Regions from separate parts of the Homo sapiens genome. Here all the other regions are linked to region 2. The links come from fine-mapping of genetic effects on gene expression. A gene starts in region 2. Each other region holds a variant in brackets. All regions are shown on one strand. Distances are between the middles of the regions.

Region 1 (5,225 bases), 20 kb before region 2:
CCTAAGTTGGGGAGGACGCAGAGCAAGATGGCCAAACAGAAGCCTTCACTGATTGTTCTCCATGCACGAACATCAAATTTAACAACTATCTACACAAAAAAGCACCTTCATAAGAACCAAAAATCAGTGATCACAAAGTGATCACAGTACCTGGTTTTAACTTCGTATTGTTGAAAGAAGCACTGAGGAAGATAAGAAAGACAATCTTGAATTGCTGACACCACCCCTCCCCCATCCCCTGGCAGCAGCCACATAGTGTGGAGAGAGAATCTGTGCACTTGGAGGGAGGGCACAGCGATTGTGGGACTCTAGAATTCAGTGCTGCCAATACGGGGCAGAACTTAGCTGTTGCCAATGGAGGGACCATTTAGACCACCCTTAGCCAGAGGAGAATTGCCCATCCCAGGTTTCAGAAACTGAGTTTTGACTACCTCCACCACCATGGGCTAAAGTGCTCTGAGGTCCTAAATAAACTTGAAAGCCTGTCTGGGCCACAACAACTGCAATACCCAGGCAAGTCCTAGTGCTGTGCTGGGCTCTGAGCCAGTGGACTGGGGAGCGCACGATCTAGTAAGACACCAGCCAGGATGGCTAAGTAAGTGCTTACAGCACCCCTCCCCCAACCCCAGGCAACACAGCTTATGGCTCCAAAAGGGACTCCTTCCTTTGCTTGAGGAGAGAAGAGGGAAGAGTGAAAAGGACTTTGTCTTGCAACTTGGATACCAGTTCAGCCAGAGTAGGATAGGGTACTGGGCAAAATCCTGAGGCACTCATTGCAGGCCCTAGCTCTTGGATGACATTTCTAGATATACCCTGGGCCAAAAGGGAACTGCCTTGAAGGGAAGGACCCAGTCTTGGCAGATTTCATCACATGCTGAATAAAGAGCCTTTGGACCCTGAAAAATCAGTAGCAGTAGCCAAGTACTACATACCGTGGGCCTCAGCTGAAACTCCGAAATGCACTGGCTTCAGATGTGACCCAGCACATTCACAGGTCTGGTGGCTACGAGGAGAGACCACTTCTGCTTGAGAAGAACAGAGGGAAGAATAAAGGGGACTCCGTCTTGAGCTTAGGTACCAGCTTAGCCACAGTGGGAAAGAGCACCAAGCCAGCTCTTTGGGTCCCTGATTCCAGTCCTTGGCTCTTGGATGGCATCTCTGGACCTATTCTAGGCCAGAGAGGAGCCCACTGCCCTGAAGGGTAAGTCACTTTCCTGGCAGCATCCAACACATGCTGGCAGAAGAGCCCTTGGGCCTTAAGTGAACATTGGCAGTATCCCAGCAGTACTCCTCATGGGCCTGTGGTGGTGTTGGACATGAGAAGAAACTCCTTTGCCTGGGGAAGAGCAGGAAAGGGTGGGAAGGACTTCAGTGGTTCGGGTGCCAGGTCAGCCACAGTAGAATACAAAACCAGGTAGATTTCTAAAGTTTCCAACTCCAGGCCCTGACTCCCAGACAGCGTCTCTGGACTCACCCAGGGCCCAGGGGAACTTGATTCCCTGAAGGAAAGGACACAGCCTTGCTGGTTTTACCACCTGCTGATTGTAGCGCCCTAGAGCCTTGAGCGAACATAGATGGTAGCCACGTAATAGTTACAGTGGGCCTTGGGCAAGACCCAGTGCTATGCTGGCTTCAGGTCTGACCCAGGGCAGTCCCAGTAGTGGTGGCCACAGGAGTGCTTATATCACCCCTCCCTTAGCTCCAGTCAACTCAGCACAGGAAGAGAGACTCTGTTTCTTTGGGAAAAAGTAAAGGAAGAGAACAAGAGTCTCTGCCTGGTAATCCAGAGAATTATTCTGGATATTATCTAGGACCACCAAGGTGGTACCTCTATGAGTCTGCAAGAGCCACAGCGTTACTGGGCTTGGGGTACCCCTTAATGCTGATATGGCTGCAGTGGCCAAAAACTTAGATCATAACACCCAAGTCCCTTCAAATACCTGGAAAACATTCCGAAGAAGGACAGGTACAAACAAGCCCAGACCAGACACTAACAAGCATCCACAAGCACAGGACCATCCAGGAAAACATGCCCTTACCAAACAAACTAAATAAGACATCAGTGACCAATACTGAAGAGACAGAGATAGTGACCTTTCAGACAAGGAATTCAAAATAGCTGTTTTGAGGAAATTCAAAAAAATTCAAGATAACACAGAGAGGGAGAATTCAGAATT[C/A]TATCAAATAAATTTAACAAAGAAATTGAAATAATTAAAAAGAATCAAGCAGAAATTCTGGAGTTGAAAAATGCCATTGACATACTGAAGGATGCATCCATCAGAGGCTGTTAGCAGAATTGATCAAGCAGAAGAAAGAATTAGTGAGCTTGAAGCCAGGCTGTTTGAAAATATATAGAGGGGACAAAAGAATAATTCCAAGTTGAACCATTGTATGTCAGGGACCATCTTTATATATTTTTGTTATTGTTTTTGATGCTACAAGTTACTATTGAATCTAAATACTGTCAACATATTAAGATCAGACTAGGTGGCAGGCTATTGGATGAGTCAACACTATAAACTCCTACTCCCATCCTCGGTTTTTAATCAAATCAAGTTTTATCATACATTATGTCACATCCCAATTTTCAGCCCCAGTTCACATCTTCAATGAACCTCATGAACATGAGCCATGGGTAGATAATAAAGAAAGCCTAAGCAAGCCGCAGAAGACCAAAGAGACTTAAGGATCTGCAAGGCAGTAACCAAGAAGTCACTAATGTGGGTTCTGCCTCTCAAAACAGCTACTAACAAAGTATTTTGATGTTCCACATAACATTATCAAAAAATTAGCCTCTCAGGCTTTTAGGGGTTATATTCCCTTCTCTTTTTTATTTTGTTTTTTGAGATGGAGTCTTGCTCTGTCACCCAGGCTGGAGTGCAGTGGCACGATCCCGGCTCACTGCCACCTCTGCCTCCCGGGTTCGAGAGATTCTCATGCCTCAGCCTCCAGAGTAGCTGGGACTACAGGTGCCTGCCACCACACCCGGCTAATTTTTGTATTTTTAGTAGAGATGGGGTTTCACAATGTTGGCCAGGCTGGTCTTAAACTCCTGACCTCAAGTGATCTGCCCACCTCAGTCTCCCAAAGTGTTGGGTTTACAGGTGTGAGCCACCGTGCCCGGCCTCCTTGTTCTTATCTCTGAGGGTACATTCAGAAGGCAATGGAGAGCAAGTTAGAGTCAAAGAGATGATTCCTTCTGCCTCTTTTTTTTTCTTTTAATGACAAAAATATTCTCAGCTACATCCACAAAATCTGCTCAATGTCTTAAAGATCTATTTATTTTGCAACTTAAAAAGAGTGTGAGGCCCACAGTGTTCTCACTGACCAGAGTTCAAATGTCACTCGGGCCCAGCACAAGGCCACAGGGCCAGCCTGGAGTGGCAAGCAGTGAGCCAACAGAGCTTGTAAAGTAGAAGCAGCTCCTCTTGAGCCAGGTTTCGTGGGAGCCTGAGGGACCTCAGCATTGGTAAAATCAATTTGTTCCATCATCCTAGTAGTATTATGGTCAAAGAATTACAGAGCTAGTCTGTTTAGGACAGAAGACCTTAGGATCATACTGGATGTTACTTGATTCTCAATGCCAGTTGGTTCCATTTGGTGGCAGAAAAGGCCATTTGTCTTTCTAAGCCCTTTCCTTGGGTACTTTTACCCCAGCATTACCTGATGGGCATAAGGAGGCAGCACCAAATAGTGTTGCCAGACTTGTGGTGCTGAGCACATGCCAGCCAATTGGGAAATGGCTGCTTCCTGACTACCCCACCTCTGGGGAATTATCTCATTAATCACAGTAATATACCTGGAGGAAAATGATGTTTTAATTTTTTGATGATGGTTATTGTTCGTCAAGTTACACCAACATTGATGGCATCTGTGAGTTACGAAAGGAAAAAAAAGCAAAAAGTATAGGCGTGGTCTAAGCTAGCAGGCCCAACAAGCCTTCAGCTGTTTCTAATCTGCCTCTCCCCTGCAGCTGAGCCCTCTTGGTGGCCAAAGGAGTATGCCTTATCAGGCCCAACCTTCCACAGAATGTTGGTCAAACCCTGGCTCTCACCTAAGCTCTGATCACTTTGCCCAAAATCAAAATTTTTAGAGCACTACAATGACACTGCTTGCTATTAGAAGTTTGCACTGTTCTGAGGAGGTTTGTGATATTATCCCCAAAAGGTCCTTGTCAAAATGCACATAACCCAGAGAACTAGCACATTAATCCCATTAGTGAGCAATAATATGCTCATGAGGATGTGAAAAGGCCTACATTCTGAGAACACATCTCCTTCAAGGTGAAGAGGAAGCCCCCAAAATTCACCCCTCCCTACCCACCCACTCACACGCTCACTACTACTATCTGCCTTACACTTACTGGAACTTATGTCATTAACCTTTTATCCCAGCCTGTGTCAATCATCCAAGAACCCCTGGATTCTAGGCCACTCTCCACGCTAATTTCCATGCAGTTCTGTATGTTCCTATTCTGTCTTCCCATCTCTCCCAAATTTCTGTAACCCTTCCACTGTCTCCTCTATAATTCACTGCCCATGATCAACAAAATTCCCTGTATCTTCAACCTATTCTCTGGATATGCACTTCACAATCTTACTCTAACAAACCAGAGTTTCTCTGAAAGGACTGCCTCCCCTGCATCCTTTTCCAAAGGTGGCAGCTTGTCTCCCACAGCCCTCACACTGCTGAGCCTGAAGTGGGGTAGTTATCCTCATTTTTTGTTTTGTTTTCAGACCATTCTTCTTTCCTCCTCGCTAAAACCCCCAGCTTTGAACCTCATGGCATCAGATTACAGCACTATCTACATGACCCTATGTGTTGCTTTTAACTACCAATGCCCAATTCATTCTCCCTTATTTCTTGATGATTTTAGCTCCTGTTTCAATGTCACTCCCTCCAGTGATACTCCTGTTTTAATTCTTGGGGATTTTCATACGCTTCTTGGTAATCCACCCTCACCCTGCCTCTCATTTTCTTGACTTCACTCTTTCAATGGTCTTTTTTTTTTTCTTCTACTTGAGTGCTAAGTAGTGAGATCTTGCAATGATCTTGCTCTCCACTCTATCTCAGCTACTCATTTCCAAAATTAAAACCTTGTCTTTCCCCACTCTCTCATCTCTATATCCTATCTTTCTAGCCTACTTCTATTGTTTTAATCTCTTGGATCTCCAATCTATTCACCTTTATGCTGTCCCTCAGCCCTCTGTCCTTCACCCTTCTTG
Region 2 (5,225 bases):
GGTTAAGTAACCAATTCTGTGATCTTGGGCAACAAAACTGAGCATAGCACCCTGTGTTCTAAGATTTGAGCCCTAGATAAATAAAAGAGCATTAGCACATTGAAAAGGGTAGAAAGAAGTGACTTTACACACACACACACACACACACACACACACACACACACACTTACTTCACTCTTCATGCCCCTCTGTCTGCCTCCTGTTTATGGAAAAATCATGAGACAACTTGATGGATGTGTTATTTTTTTAATAGAAACCACATCACTTCATATGTTACAGCATGTAATTCAAGAGGTCCCCAGAAAGTTTTTTCATCTACAAAATAACAGAAAGGATAAGCACCCTCACCACCCAAGCCTTTGGTTCATTTTTTTTGGTTTTGATCTCTATTCTCTTACCACAATGACATGCTGCTTCCAGAATGGAACTCTGTCTTTAAGTTCTATACTAGTTAGGAGGCTAATCTATCAGCTTGCTTTAATAATGTAATGGATGTCCTAATTTAACTGAGGAACCTGGACAAGTCTTCCTTGATTTCAGCTTCATCCCAAGGCCCATGAATGTTTTCTTTAAAAAGCTGCAAGCGAATGAGGTAGAATGGACACAGACATGAGATAGACATCAGCAGAAGGGCAAAGAGTACGGCTCCCACAGCACTAATGGACAGTAGGCCTCCCACGGCTGAAAATGCAAAAAGCAGTGTGACCCCCACATAGCTCCGGGGAGTACATGCCTTTAGTTTCTTCTGCAACATGGGCCACAGGGCAAAAATCTGAATGGCAAATGTCACCATGATGAAGGCATGCAGGGACCGGGGAAGACGTGATGCCAAGCATACAGAAGCAAAGATGGCCATGTTCAAGGATAGTGTGCTGGATACAATGGCAGCATTGGCACCATAGTCAAAAAAGATGAGATGGCCTAACAGCATGAAGACTGACATGGCATAGATGGTGTCAGTGCTGACAGACTCTGTAAGGGTCTTCAGCACTGGTGAAAACCCATAAGTGAAAGTAATGAAGACTAGGGCACTCTTCAGGTCAGCCCACCGGGTCTGCCCACTCTTCTTCCGCCCTTCACCTCCATCAATGAGATCAAACAAAACATACCCAATCAGTGAAGAAGCCAGACCAGTCCCTAAAAGCCAATGGGGGGCCAGAAGACCCTCATCCATATACCACCAGATAACCACAAAAACACAAACACTGCACAGCTGCTGGATCACCACACTGGACTCAAATACCACAGCCCAATATTGGTATTTCCGAGCATGGATGTTTTTCCGGAGCTCTTCCAGGAATCGCCGGTCCACATAGTTATCAGGAAAGGGCTGTCGCTCATACAAGACCTTCTGCCACTTGACCTCCTTGGTGTTAGTCACAGGTTGAGCATACATTATCCTTTCATTCAAACTCAGGCCAGTTTAATCATCGCCCTCACAGAAGTCCAGGTGGTTCTTGTTCTTTATGAAGTTTTGAAATGAGACCTCCCTGGAAATTCCATGCTGTGTTGATGTTCTACCAACCTTTCCTTGTTTTCAAAGGCAGGGGCTAGGCCTACAATAGATGAATTTGTCTCTGAGGCAGGACAACACAGCCAAGTTCCTAGAAAAAGAGAGACTGTGAACCTACGAAAGTTGTGAAAGGTCAAGAGTAGTACTGAGATAAAGTCAAATCAACTCAGTTTACTAAAAGTCTGAGAAAAATGTATGTGGTAGTCACCTTATGGGACATTAAAACTGCATTTCAGATTTGAAAATTATAATTCCTTGAATAATAATAGACATCTGTTAGCTATCGCTTATTGAGTACCTACTATGTGCTAAGTGCCTTATGTATCTTCTTTCACTTAATCCTCACCACCTTGTAAGTTAGTATTAGTCCTGCTTTGGTAAAAAAGCTGAGATTCAAGATGCTTAAGTAACTTTGCCCTAAGGTAACAGAGCAGAGCCAGGATTCAAACCAAAGTCTTATCCCAAAGCCTGTGTCTCACATTGTATCTCCCTCTAAAGCAGTTCTTAACTCAGTGGTTCACATATCCCTTAGGTATATCACATTGCATGCTTATATCTGGATTTGTGTAAATTTATAGGGATAATATCCATAGTTTTTATTGGTTCTCAAAGGCATGTTATTTGTATTTTTTAAGTTACCAATCCAAAGACAATAGTAAGCTGCACCATACAGAAAGGTATGAGCTCTATAGTTTAACCAAAATCAAAGCCTCAAAGAAACTAGACTCTTCTTCCATTAGCTGAGCTTAGCATCCTTTAAAGAGCTATCAATCTACTCAAAACAAGGAAACTCTTGAGAGGATCGAAGAAGATAATCATTCCTTTTTCACAATGAGAAAACTAAGAGTCAGAAACACCACAGCCATCCGGCAAATTTGAGAAAAAAAAAATTCATATTGCCCGACTTTATTTCTTCCATGATAGACCACAACAAATATTGCTTGGCAAGCCAGACACCGTTACCCCCTCTGCAGCAGGGATCCCAGCCCGGGAATCTTAAGGCCGCCGCCGGGGTTGGAGGGTCTGCGACGCCCAAAAGGGCAGCGCCCGCCCGCAGAGTGGGGCTGGGAGGGGACGGGGTAGGGTAGGGTGACCCCAGGGTGCGCCTTCACTCTTCTGGCACCCCATTTGGCTTTTTGGGTGGGCCTCCCACTTCCGCCGCCGCCCCTCACTCAGCCTTGGGTCTGCGGGAGGCAGCAGAGGAAAAGGAGCCCCGGAAACACTGACCGTTACACGGAACCCACCTACCCGAGAGTTCCTAGGGTTGCGCAGCTGGGGGACGGCGGCACCCAGCCTTTTTCCCGCTTCGGGGCGCCGGGGCTGCGACTGTGGCCAAGCACTTCCGGGTCCGCCGCAATCTCCTTAGCGAGGGCACCCTTCCCCGGCTGGAACCATCGCGACGTGACTGCTGCCCCCTCCTGGCTGCTCGAAGGACCTCCGGTCTCCTCTCCTGGAGACTGGCCCAAACCCGAATGCTCTGAGCCTAGGAAGGCAAATCCCCAGCAATCCCCTATTGAAAGATGGGATGTGCCATCTGAAGGACTGGGTAAGGCAAGAGAGGACAAGGAAAGAGGCTGGGCCAGTAGGTGAGAGATAATGGCCGCTTTTGTTGCGCTCCTTTATTAAGTCAGGCCCTCAGCTGGGACTTCCCGTGCATCCATGCGTTCATTCCACAGATACTGATTGAATGCCTGCATGTAACAAGCCATGCTTGGGGTGCTCATGATACAGCCGTGAATGAAACACACAAAAATTGCTGCTCTCATGAAACTCTCTTTTTTGGTGCATTGACCTTTACACTGATTATATCATCTCCCCCCTCAAAGAGGACAAATCTAAGGCTCAGATAAGTTGTATTTGTCCAAAGACAGGCACCTGGGAAGTAGATGAACAGAGATCAATATCCAGTTGTCTATAGCTTCAAAGCTTGGTTTTTTTCCTCTTTACCTCCTAAAAGAAGTGAGGACAAGATTGCTAATTAAACTGAGTTCATGGAAATATTAAAGGATATATAAACAGAAGGAAGTAATAAAGAAACAAAGGGATGTAGTAAAACACAGGATACAGTGGAAATAAAAGTCAGAAAACATGACCCATTTACTAGCTCAGTGACTCAAGGCAAATCACACTACCTGAGCTTTGATTTCTTCATCAGTAAAATGGAGATGACATTATTTGCACTTGGCTACTTTATAGGATGGTTAAAGAGTTAAATATAAAAATGGTTTGTAAAGTGTTCACTATATGGCTGCTATTAGCTGACTTTGGCCATCGTAATGATAGCAATGTTTAAGTGTGATATATTCTGTAAAATGTTCTCTATTTCCCTCTAGGCTTCTGTTCCAAAATTTGACAAGATTCCTTGGCTTAGTGAGGCCAGCCTTGTAAACAAGCCATTAGTGCTCAGCCTTCCCAGAAGGTAACCTCTCAGCCACCGAGGGCAAAAGTTTTACGAAACATCTCACAGAAGATGATTTCTTCTTAAGGGATGGGGACAATTATCAGAGGGCACATTTGATCCATTGAGAAACTCAAGTCAAGTGCTTTAAAAATAGAAATAATCCGGGTTTCTCAGAAAAAAATGATCACTGAGTATAGGCCTGGCTAGAGGAGATGAGATCTCAAAATTTTTCCCTCTCCACCACTACCACTCAACAGTATAAGATAATTTTTCCCCTAGACACTGTCTCTCAAAACACTTCCATCCTCTTTCTCACCCCACATTTTCTCCACTGCTGTAGTCTGAAATTTTCACATTTTTACCATCAAAAGTCTAGAACAGTAAGTTCCCATCTTTATAGAATAGTAACTCTGTATGTAACTTTGAGGCACCCTCCTACATTCCTGTTAGTCCTACTCCTTCCAAACAAACTACTATATGACACATAAATCTATTTTTCAAAATTGCAGGAATTACATATCTAGGGAGCATTTCAACTGTCTCTTGAAATAATTGGGTTACCGTGTCCCTTCTCCATTTTTGATGAAATGGTTCCTAAGTGTAGTGATAAACCCCACTCTGGGAAGGGGACATGGACAGAAGGGTAGGTGTGAGGTAGTGTTGGGGTGAATGAGAGAAACCAGAAAGAGGGCAGAGAGAAAGAGAAAGGGCAGGCATAGAGGCCATTCCAAAGGCACACGACAGACTAAAAAGGAATGACTCCTTGGCATTCGAAACAGCTCGTTAGAAAAGCCAGACTCCCCAAAAAGAGTTTCTCCTCCTGTTGATAACTACCATGTACCCTCCTGCCCATGGATAAGTGACTTCATAAGCAAATTCCCATCACTGTCTCCACATCCCCACTTTAGTAACATGTACCTTTGCTTTGTCTACTGTACATTAAAAAAAAATCTCATTCTCAGTAAATAGGTAGACGGTTTTAGTATTTTCAGAACAAAATTCACAAGTGCTTTCAAGTGCTCGTTATTCAGTTGTGTTATTTTTACATAATTTTGAATATAACGAAAGCAGATTATCAGAGGTTCAATAAACTCAAAGGCCTATTTAAGAAACAAAAGTACTAAGTGATAGAGTGCTTATTAAGAGTTGTTAACACTGCATGGATCAGCACGAGTAAGGACAGTCTAGCATATTTTAATTGAGGGTGGGACACAAACTCACAGGCCCATGACAGTCAGATGAGGGGCATAATGAGTAAAGCTGGCCAAACAGGACTGCAATGAATGGGAAATCACCTCCCCGCTTCAGCCC
Region 3 (5,225 bases), 52 kb after region 2:
TAAAAATTAGCCAGGCGTGGTTGTGGGCACCTGTAATCCCACCTACTTGGGAGGCTGAGGCAGGAGAATTGCTTGAACCTGGGAGGTGGAGGTTGCAATGAGCTGAGATTGCACCATTGCACTCTAGCCTGGGTGACAAGAACAAAACTCCATCTCAAATAAATAAATAAATAAATAAAATAAAGAAAGTTGTTTCTCATGCCTAGGTGAAATCAACCTCTTTATGCTTCCACTCTTCTACTTCTCCCCTGTAGTAATAATACAGAGCCAGCCACTCCCCTCCAGTAACAACAAATTTTCAAATATTTGAAGACAACCAATCTATCTTCCTTTAGTTATTTCTTCTTGAATGCTAGAAAGATCACCCACTTTGCTATGCCAGATCTCTCAGCTAGTTTTAATGTTTGTGGGAAAAAAAAGAACTTGTCCCAGGGATGAGATTTCCTTGTACTGTCTTGCTGAATCTGGCCTCCATTGCTCACTGAAGGGTGATGCTTGGGTAGAGCCAAATTTTATTCCAAAATAAGGGTGTAGCTCTGGTCTGGCTTAACTTTGTAGGCTTAGAGTGTTTGGGACATGGGGGTAAGAGGGGATTCTCCCTGATGGTGGACACTTGAGCTTCCTAGCATCCTCAGGAAAAATGTATGAGCTTTCATAATAGATTACAACTCATGTTTTTGTTGTAGCCTGTTTCTGTACCATACAGGTTTTGCACAAACGTTCATTTAGAAGTTTATAAAGTCAGTAAAATCAGAACACTAAATTTAGTCTTAGATTGGAAAGGCAATAGACGGGACTGAAGCTCTGTCCCCAATGCCTTTCTTGATTTTTATATAATTTCAATAAGCATTGTCTCTCCTCCTCCTTTCACCCCAAGTTCCTATAACTGTGCTAAAATACAAAGGAAGCACCAAAAGCCTATATTCATGTTAAGAAGACTACGTGCACACAAAAGCAACAAAGGCAGAATCTGAAACATGTTGAACTATGGACAGACAGCAATCAGTCACCAAGGACAGCACTAAAATCATGGGGTCCTCTGCACCAGGTGTACGCATAGGTACTGTAGGGGCCAGAGATTCACTAAAAAAATCAACTCACAAAAGGCAGATTAATTGGAGAAAAGGCAGGTAAACTTATTTAACATGTATACTCAGGAGCCTTCAGACTGAAGACTGAAAGATAAAGGGGAAATGGTTCATTTTTATGCTTAGTTCAACAAAGTATGGAGAGCTGTGTAGAAATATGATTGGACAAAATAGGTATGATCTAATGCTAGCAGACTGAGTGGGGAAAACCAGCAAGGCCTCTCTGCCTGATTCTTCTTAGCCTCTGAGCATGCACTCCTTCCTTCTGAGTTTGGGGCAGAGCCCTCTCTGCAATCGGGGGTCTTATGACCTACAGTCAAACAAGGTAAGTCAGACAATTTCTTTATGGACAGTTTTTACGCAGAAAGAGGAAAAGTTAGAGTAATATTTTTAGTTTTTATGGCTAGCTTTAGGGAAAAAGCCCTCTGGTGTCCCTGACCCACCTTGGTGAAGAGGGATTCTGGTTTCTATGATTAGTCTCAGGGGAGAAAGCAGGCTGGGAGACAAGAGGGCAGCAGCAGGTCAAAGAAAACCTTTGGCTCCTGAGGCTGTTTCTGAGGCCTTCATTCTGGGGTATTGTTTTCTGAGCCCCAACTGTATCCTACCCAGGGCAAACTAATAGGCCTTCCAGACCCTGAACATTATCTTCATTGCCTGTCTCCTACCAAAAAGGGATCCTACTGATCTATAAATAGATGCCTTTTGAGGTATCCGTCCAGTTTGTAAACTTAAAATCCTAAGTTCTCCACCAACTGAACCCTCTCTTGGCCATGGGGACCCCAGAGAAATCTTAAAAACTTAGTTCCTGTCCATGACAGCAAGAAAGGTTGGACCTACCTTGTTATGCTCCCTCCCTTTTGGAGTTTAGGCACAACTGACCAGCATTACTGTTAAAACAGAGATCATAAGGCTAACAAAACAAGCTGGCAATAAGATACCAAAGTATACACAAGACTAAGGTCATAGAAGACAAGGGTTAAGTCATGCCTACAGACTATCAATCTGGCTACAGAGCTTCCTAATCTTAACTTAACACATTCCTTTTTATTGACTTCAAGTTGTAGATGGAACCTTACTCCTTTGACCAATTATAAATTAAAGCATCTCTAAATTCACCTGTAACCTATAAGCACCCCCCTTCCCACTTCAAGATATCTTGCCTTTTCAGATGGAACTAATGTATCTCTTCCACGTATTGATGTATGTCTTTCCTTTAACTCCTGCCTCCCTGAAATATATAAAACCAAAATGTAATCTGACTGCCTTGGGACCACTTACTCAAGGCTTCTTGGCTTTGTGTTTCTCCCTGGGCAGTCATCACTCATTTTGACTCAGAATAAACCCCTTTAAAATATTTTACATAATTTGGTTCTTCATTAACAAGTTGCACCCATATACTTTTTCCTCCTGGTTCCCTTATGACCAAGGATATAATTTGGGACTAACTGATGAGAGAAGAAAAGTCTGCAATGATGAGGACTGAGCAGTGGGTACAGAGAAGTATGTCTGCCAGCAGAATCCAAGCCACATCTTTAAGGCTCAGATTTAGGCCAGAATATAACTCACCCCTTGGAGGTGGCGAGTCCTATAACACCAGGCTTAGCCAGTCTATGGCATTGCTAATGCCCTCATCAGTATGGTAAAGGCTTGCTGGAAAGCTGGTCTTCCAGAGCATCTGCTCTGTCATCAGAATTGTTACCATGGGAGGAACTAGGTATCTAGAAAGGGATCAAGTGGATTATTGAGGCCTTCTGTGTAAGCCTGTGCTCTTCTGTCTCTGCTTAGAC[G/A]CACCTCTCATCTATCCATCACTCTGGACCAATTCACACTGGGCAGTCACCTCCCATTTGTTCACTCAATCCATTTACCCCTAGTTTAAGCTGGAACATGTCAAACATTTGTCACCCCAGGTTTTACCACTAACTAAGCAGAATGCCTCACAGTTTCTGCTTTTACTGTTCTCTGTGAGTGTGGGAATCAGGTCTTTGAGGAATGGAGGGTCCACAGAACTTAGCAGGATAGCAAAGGCTGGGTGGGAGTAAGGGAGGAGACCACCCCTCATATTGTCTTATGCCCAATTTCTGCCTCCAGAGAAAGAAAAAGTAAAAACTAAAAGACACAAATGAAATCCACAAGCAGACAGCCCGGCGCCACACCCTGGGCCTGGTAGTTAAAGATTGACCCCTGACCTAATCGGTTATGTTATCTATAGATTACAGACATTGTACAGAAAAGCACTGTGAAAATCCCTATCCTGTTTTGTTCTGATCTAATTACTGGTGCATGCAGCCCCCAGTCACATACCCCCTCCTTGCTCAATCGATCACCACCCTCTCACACGCACCCCCTTAGAGTTGTGAGCCCTTAAAAGGGACAGGAATTGCTCACTCAGGGAGCTCAGCTCTTGAGACAGGAGTCTTGTCGATGCCCCCAGCCAAATAAACCCCTTCCTTCTTCAACTTGGTGTCTGAGGAGTTTTGTCTGTGGCTTGTCCTGCTACAGAACAGTATGCACAAAATAGTTATCAGTGGAGATTTAGTGGTTGCCTATTATCTGCCTGGCACTGTGCTTGGCATTGGGAAATCAAATGAATAAGAAGCTTACAACTTCTTGTTGAATAGAAGAAGCAGACAACTAAACAAGCCATCATGAAATAATATGGTAAGAACAGGGGCTATTAGAGCATCTGGGATCAGCACCTAATCCAGCCCCGGTGAGAGATAAGGTTGGGAAAGGGAATCAAAGAACCATCTGGGGGAGGTGACATCCCAAGGGCATGGAAGATATTAGTTAATCCCAGGACATGGCAGGGTGTAGGAACAGACAGGAGGTTCAGCAGCCAGCATAACTGGTTAGAATTGAATGATGACTCTCTGCATATCAGAATGTTTTACTTATAGCTAGAAAGTTCTAAAGATTTAAACAGCAGTTTTTCACTCCTCTGATGGTATTTAATGATGGTGATTAAATACCAGTTAGTATTCACATTCAACCTAGGTTTACTTTAGAAAGCCTTCTGTCCTGATCTGGAAAAGAAAGCTTAAAATGTGTCAAGGTCAGAAAAAGCAATGCCCGGGTATCTATCCCCTACTCGCTAGCTCTGCTAGAAAAACAAAGGCCATCAGCAAGTGTCAACCATGCTGGAATGTGCTGGCGCAGCTCTGGGGCTCCGGGCATTTTCTCTCCTCTCCTTCTTTCCTCTTTTGGTCTAGTGAGCTTGCAAGCTGCCTGCATTCTTGTGAGCTGCCCCTGTCAGGTCTCATACAGGACTCCCTGCTTAACCAGGCAAACACACACGATTGCTTTCAAGCAGACTTCCTCCTGGATGCCTCCCCAATTCCCACTGCTCCACCCACACATGCCCTGGGGCCCTTAGAACTGTGGCAGCTCTCTGGAGACAGAAAGTCTGCAAGGGAGAAACCCTTCTCTTGTGGGAGAACTTAAATGGGGGAGAGGATATGAGATGTGATTGCTAGATCCTGTCCATAGGACTCAGATGGAAGTACAATGGTTCATCCTCTTAGAAAAATCCTTAAAGTTTTCAAAAGAAAGGAGAGGACCTTCCAATCTTTGCTTCCGTAGTAAGTGTAAATAACATTCTTACAAGCTCAAATTAAAATTTAGCATGGATTATATCATTTAATCTACACAATAATAAAGTGTTTACTATTATTATCCCTCGATGTGCCTCAATTCGTTCATCTGTAAATTGGGGATAATAGCACCTACCTCTTAGTCTTATAGGAATCAAAAAATTAATAGTAAATACATTGGAACTATGCCTAGTGCATAGTAAGCAGTCAAAAAATATCAATATGTGTTTTTGTGAGGAATCTGGAGCACAGAGAGGTTAAATAATTTGGCCAGGATCACACAGCTTGTAAAATAAGGCCAAGATTCAAACCCCGGTAGTTTGGCCCCAGAGCCTGCTCTCCTAATGGCAGCGTTATTTGCTGTGCTGCTCTGCTGCACAAAACAATTAAAGAGTAACAAGAAACCAGTGACTTTGGGTGGCTAGAGAGAAGCTGGGGAACCCCTTGAGTTTGTGTAAATGAGTGGTTCTCAAAATGTGCCCCCCTGGCAGCATCCTCCCCATTTCCTTAGGAACTTGTTATAAATGCAACTTCTCAGGCTACATCC

Alleles and levels. Positions count from the first base shown, and alleles are read on the strand shown. Sizes are in standard deviations (SD) of each study's normalised expression. Not every link is listed here.
For the expression in esophagus mucosa of the gene that starts at base 2,843 in region 2, allele A in region 3 goes with a higher level than allele G (small effect, 0.20 SD a copy in GTEx).

What was found. PIP is the estimated chance that this variant, and not a neighbour inherited with it, causes the effect.
Region 1: its variant is the best candidate, but not a certain one, in a credible set for the expression of PIGC in whole blood (INTERVAL, PIP 0.89).
Region 3: its variant is the best candidate, but not a certain one, in a credible set for the expression of PIGC in esophagus mucosa (GTEx, PIP 0.84).

Annotation. Positions count from the first base shown.
Region 1 is chr1:172,421,565-172,426,789 of GRCh38, forward strand. All of the region lies in intron 1 of C1orf105 (chromosome 1 open reading frame 105), which reads left to right. LOC102724528 (a long non-coding RNA gene) reads right to left here and starts at 1,792. Exons shown (of 3, transcript XR_001738294.3): 1 at 933-1,792. The variant C/A (reference allele first, on the strand shown) is at 2,178.
Region 2 is chr1:172,441,227-172,446,451 of GRCh38, forward strand. It overlaps PIGC (phosphatidylinositol glycan anchor biosynthesis class C), which reads right to left and starts at 2,843. Exons shown (of 2, transcript NM_153747.2): 1 at 2,762-2,843; 2 at 231-1,604. The coding sequence starts at 1,396. The coding sequence ends at 503. It overlaps C1orf105 (chromosome 1 open reading frame 105), which reads left to right. Exons shown (of 7, transcript NM_139240.4): 2 at 3,847-3,932. RefSeq lists enhancers at 2,675-3,198, 2,922-3,231.
Region 3 is chr1:172,493,078-172,498,302 of GRCh38, forward strand. No RefSeq gene overlaps it. Among named protein-coding and RNA genes, the nearest start is that of SUCO, 37 kb to the right of the region's middle. RefSeq lists enhancers at 3,889-4,389, 4,390-4,890. The variant G/A (reference allele first, on the strand shown) is at 2,876.